Regions from separate parts of the Homo sapiens genome. Here region 2 is linked to region 1. Evidence: fine-mapped QTL for protein levels in blood plasma. A gene starts in region 1. The other region holds a variant in brackets. All regions are shown on one strand. Distances are from middle to middle.

Region 1 (2,915 bases):
GTAATCAGAAAAACAGACACACTTTACAAAAGTCCGACATCCCAAACTGACTTCCTCTTCCAGATATTAAAAATCTAATAAAGGATTGGAGCAAAAATAGGAAGGGCACGAATCTTACATTGAAAGCATAACATAACTTTAAAAAGAATTGGGGTTAGGTTTATATCACTCCATGTCCTACCTTTAGAAACACTTTGTAAACCATGCTCACCTGTTTCAGCTTGGATACCGTCTGCTCCTACAAACGTGAATGTGATTAGCGTTTCAAGGATCCCTTCCTAACAGGGTCCTCGAAGCCGACTATCTAAGGAGCCTGACATCCCTCTAAGCGTTTTAAAATCCATTATCCCATTGGAACCTCCACAACAATAATAGGCGGGTAGCGATGACTCTGGTTTTGTGGATGGGGACGCTTGACTTGGGGTGGTTATGCCTTGCCCAGGACTGAACCCCGGGATAGAGACGGGCAGGCAGCGGTGGGTCGAAGGGCCCGGGGACTAGGGCCCGGGTCGGGAGGGGCGGGCGCCTTACCGCGGCTTGCTGGAAGGCGCCCTTGGTGTAGGTGCCGCCACCTCGGTAGGAGATGGCAGGGATCTCTTGGAGGAGCAGCGCGCACTTGTGCTGGCGCGCGCGGCGGGTGGAGATGTAATCGACGCGCGGCACCACGTAGTTCTTGGACGAGAAGGTCACGATGGCCACGCGCGTGGCCGTGGGCACCACGGGGAAGTCGGACAGCAGCTTGCGGACGAACATGAGCTCGCTGCGGAAGTTGACTTCGCCCACGCTGGACGAATCATCCACCAGGAAGACAAGCTCCAGGCGCTCGCTGAGCTCCCGCAGCAGCCGCACGCGTCGCCGGAACGCCTGGCCCAGCCGCTCCACTCTGCTCCCCGCCGCTTCGTCGCCAGGAGCGGGCGGCGCGGGGATACTCCCGGGGGCCCCGGGCGCGGTCTCGGGGAAGAGGCGGAAGCTGAAATTGCGCGACGGGGACATCTGCTGAAAGGTCGCCCAGCCCGAAACGAGCGCCAGACCCCAGCAACAAAAGGCCAGGCGAGGCCACATCGCGCTGGAGACAGAGCGGCTGCCCCGGAGCGCAGGCGGCGGCTCGGGCGGGAAGAGGCGCTGGGCGGCCGGACTCGCAGAGGGGCGTGCGCGGAGCTGGGCGCGGGGCAGCGGCCAAGAGCCTCAGCGCCCTTTCATCTGACACTGGGGACAGACACAATCCAGACTCCTCAGCAGCTCGGGAACTCCGGAGGGAACGGCGCGCGCTCTCTACCCCTCTCGCTCTCCTCTTTTTTTCTTCCCTCTCTCCTCCTCCTCTCTCTCCCTGAAGCCTATAAAATGTTTGAAGGAAAGGGGGCAGTCAAGAAAAATCTCCCGCTTCCCTCCTTCTCTCCCTCTCTCCCTCTCCCCGCTCCTGTCTACTTTCTGTATCTGTGACTCTATCTCCCTCCTCCCCCTCTCATTCTCCTCCCGGGATCAAGCCAAAGGCTCGGAGATTCCATGACACCAGAACCCCGCGTCTGTCAGGCTGTCAACATTCCCGCAGCAAGCGCACCAGCGCCGAAGCCCTGATTGATCCCATATGTCTGGCAGGAGCTGCAGAGGAATTCACTGGAGATGGATCCAGATACCGAGAGTGCCACAGTAATTGGAAACACTTTGTAGACGAAAACATACACGCGGACTGGCCAGGGAGTTGAAAGCATCCTTTGAAAACTGCTTGCTCACCTTTTGTGTTTCTTTTCCCCCATTCAGTGTCCCAAAGCCCTCGCCAAATAGATGATTGTACAATTTTCCTGATGGGGATTTCTAATCAGTGGTGTGTGTGAGCGTGCAGATTAAGCCCTTAAGGGCCCCCTCAGATCACACCATAAAGGAGTTGCATCTAACCTTATGCGTTCCACAGGAATGATTTGTCATGGTACTTCAGTCGTGCATTTATTCATTCATCTGTTTGTTCATTCTTTCCTGATTTTAACAAATATTTTTTGAATACCCATTGTGTGCCAGGAACTATGTGAGGCACTGCAAATATAAGGAACAAAAATTGACAGGGATTCTATCCTCAATGAACTTAAAGGGTAACAAGTGAGGTGACCATTAACCAGATATTAACATACAAAATATATGTAATTACAAGTGACCATGCTAAATAAAGGAGAGCTTAGGTAGACAGACTTGACCTTGGAGAGGCCAGAGAAGCCTTCTCTGAGGACAGAAAGTTTGTGCTGAAGTCTGAAGTGTAAGTAGGGGGTCCCCAGTCCCCTTTCATGTGTTCTTGATCTATTTCAACAGATAAGATCCACCTGGCTTTAAGTGGTACCTGGCATATATCTGCTTTGAAACAAGTTGCTACCTGGGGTGGTTTTTCCAAAGCAAGACCTCCAAAGGGGAGAGCGCACGTGTAAAGAAAAGGTGCACTTTGCATGAGGGTGGGGCCTTTGGTTAAAAGATTCCAGCTGGGAGTCAGGAACACCGTGTAGGTAAGCCTACGGTTATGTAAACCACCTGAACTGAGTCACTTCCAATCCTTGGCTCAGCATCAGTATCTATTTCATGATGGAATTCAGTGATCTCAGTTTCCTCTGTTTCTAATAGTGAATGATTTAACTCCGTCTGTATTTAACAAAATACTTTCAGTGACAAGTATCACAATGTATTGTGTAACATGTTAGGGCTCTGGCATCAGTTTTCCTGGACGAAATCATGACTCTGCCATTTATTAGTTGTACAGCCTTGACTCAGTTTGTTCATTTGTAAAATGGAGTAATAACGATAACATATTAAGGGCTGTCATAAGGATTAAGTCATAAAAAAGTAAAATTCTTAGGACAATGCTTGGAGCATAGCGTGTACTCAATAAATGCTGGCTGGTTGCTCTTATTGCCACCTTTAATCATGAATGTTCTTCA
Region 2 (2,915 bases), 91 kb before region 1:
AATAGTCTGATTTTTACTGGATTTCTTTCATCTACTTTTACCAAAACCTGTAATGTATAGGGTAAGGAACCAGTTTAATATATGTTAGTTATTTCAATAAGTTATGTAACATTTTTAAAACAAAATGAATTTAACATAGTGAATTTTAAAATAAACATATGAAAAATAGACCTGAGATAAATGTTGCAAAATGTCAGTATGTTGTCATCTAGCTTTCACACAGAGCTTAAAGTATGGTAGGCACTAGATCAAGTGGTTTATATATTATCACAAATTAAAAATCTCACAATGAGGTAATACATTCATTACTTTTACTTTTGGATAAAGAAATTGAGGTATAGAGCAGGAACTGGTCCCCTTGACTTTAAGCGGTGGAGATGAACATGAACCCAACCAGCTTGGGTTCAGAGTCCATGCTCTTGTCCACTACAGATTGCTATGTAGCCTACCTCTCCATGTATTTTATTTTGGTAATGAGCAGAAGACCAATTGAGAGATGATACGGTAAACCAGGCTCAAAAGATTTCAAAGGACTGATCCGCAGCGGTGGTTCTGAGGATGGAGAGAATGGGACAAACTTCAGCGATATCAAGTAGGTGAAACCAACAGCACCTGATACCTTCTTGGATATTGGTGAGAGGGCAGGGAGTCAAGCATGATTCCAAGGTTTTCGCTTGGTAGCTAGGTGGTTGGCTGTGTCCTTTTCTGAGCTAGGAAATAATTTAGGTTTAGGTGAGTTTGAAATGCCTGTGAGACATTAATATGGGGAAAGTCCAGGAGGCTTTCAGAGTCCAGTTTGGATTCCAGAAAAGAGATTCGAACTGGAAATAGGAATATGGGAGTTGTTGGTTAACAAAATCACTCAGGAAAACTACAGAGAGAGATAGAGAAGACCAGGGCTGAAACCCTAGAGAAGATCAGCATTTGAGAATTAGCCTGAGGAAGAGAAGCCTACAAAAGAGATAAAGAAGGTTAGGTAAAAATAATGGAGGGAAAAAAAAGACGGGAAAGACTAACATCAAGGAAGCTAAGGGAAGGAAAAAGTTTTGGTAACAAGTGTGTGGTTAATAATGTAAAACGTAGCTGGGTGTGGTGGCTCACACCTATAATCCCAGCATTTTGGGAGGCCAACGTGAGAGGATCACTTGAGGCCAGGA[G/A]TTTGAGATCAGTCTGGGAACACAGTGAGACCTTGTCTCTACAAAAAAATTAAAAAAAAACAAAACAAATTAGCTGGGTGTGGTGGCACATGCCTGTAGTCCCAGCTATTTGGAAGGCTAAGGCAGGAGGATTGCTTGAGCCTAGGAATTTGAGGCTGCAGTGAGCTATGATTGTGGCACAGCACTCACTCCAGTCTGGAGGACGGAGTGAGACCCTGTCTCTGAAAAAAATTAAATAAATGTAAAATATGAGGAAAGATTATGTAAAATTAGGACCAAAAAGTATGCAGAGTAACACCAGAGATCATTGGTGACTTTGATGACAGTAGTTTATACGAGTGAAGGGGATAGAAGCCAGATTTGGGTGACTCCGAATAAATGGCAATTAAGCAGAAAGACATGGCAAGCATTGGGAACTTTCATGTGGGCTCATATGGGAAGAAATCAAAGAGAAGTGGTAATAGTTAAAGGGTTTGTAGGTTTCAAACAGGGAGTGCTTTGAGCAAGTTTCAATGCCAGTTGGAAGAATCAGTGACAAGGGAGTTGTTGATCATAAAGGAGAAGTGGTCTCTGGGGTTCTGGATTGCTTTCATAAACCTGCCCAAATGATTCAATGAAGACTTACTGTATTAGTCTGTTCTCATGCTGCTAATAAAGACATACCCGAGACTGAGTAATTTATAAAGGAAAGAGTTTTAATGGACTCACAGTTCCATATGGCTGGGGAGGCCTCACAATCACGGCAGAAAGCAAAGAAGGAGCAAAGCCACGTCTTACATGGTGGCAGGCAAGAGAGCACGTGCAGGGGAACTCCCCCTTATAAAACCATCAGATCTTCTGAGACTTATTCACTATCATGAGGACAGCATGGGAAAGACCCACCTCTATGATTCAATTACCTCCCACTGGGTCCTTCCCACGACACATGGGAATTATGGGAGCCACAGTTCAAGATGACGTTTGGATGGGGAAACAACCAAACTATATCACTTACCAATAACCTTGATATGGAAAATGCAGCTGGCCTGGTTGCCGGATAGGTCAGTTGCCGTGTATACGATAGCAACATCTCCAATTGGGAAAAGGTAAGGTGGGGTGAAAGCTGGATGAACGTGGACTGACACCTATTGGAGATACACAAATATTTTGAAAGTTAATGTCAAAAGTGCGTTTATTCTTTTCTGATTTATATATTATTAGTAATGTTAACAATGATACAATATTTCACAAAGAGGAAAGGAAAAAGGCACAGCTTTCTGGCATATTTCTTTCCAGATTATTCTATTTACATGATTTATAGAATTGGCACACATATGAAATATTTCTCCTTGTTTTTTAAACATAATACCTTCAAACATCTTTTATGCTCTTATGTAGTCCTTAAAACTTAAGATGACTCTTAAATGTTTCCATAATGTTCTGTAGAATAAATATAAGATAATTTAAGAAAAATCTGTTGAAGGACATTAGTTTGACCCAAACATTTCCATTGTAAACAGTTTTGAACAGATAATTTAAACATATTTTTTCTTCTTCTTTTCTTTACTGATGCATAATAGATGTACATAGTTTCAAGGTACATGTAATAATTTCACACATTCATATAGTTTATAAAGATCAAATCAGTGCACTTCAGATATCCATCACCTTAAATATTTATCTTTTCTTTATGCTGGAACCTTTAAAATTCTTCTCTTCCAGCTATTTTGGAATATATGATCGATTATCGTAAACTATGGTCACCCTACTGATCTATGT

Evidence for each region. A credible set is the group of variants that fine-mapping cannot tell apart. PIP is the posterior inclusion probability: the model's chance that the variant is causal. Protein levels are from the aptamer-based SomaScan assay of Sun 2018.
Region 2: its variant is the best candidate, but not a certain one, in a credible set for the plasma level of the SVEP1 protein (Sun 2018, PIP 0.61).

Annotation. Positions count from the first base shown.
Region 1 is chr9:110,578,482-110,581,396 of GRCh38, forward strand. SVEP1 (sushi, von Willebrand factor type A, EGF and pentraxin domain containing 1) reads right to left here and starts at 1,260. Exons shown (of 48, transcript NM_153366.4): 1 at 532-1,260. The coding sequence starts at 1,062. RefSeq lists enhancers at 127-627, 628-1,128.
Region 2 is chr9:110,487,499-110,490,413 of GRCh38, forward strand. It overlaps SVEP1 (sushi, von Willebrand factor type A, EGF and pentraxin domain containing 1), which reads right to left. Exons shown (of 48, transcript NM_153366.4): 9 at 2,152-2,281. Among named protein-coding and RNA genes, the nearest start is that of SVEP1, 91 kb to the right of the region's middle. The variant G/A (reference allele first, on the strand shown) is at 1,158.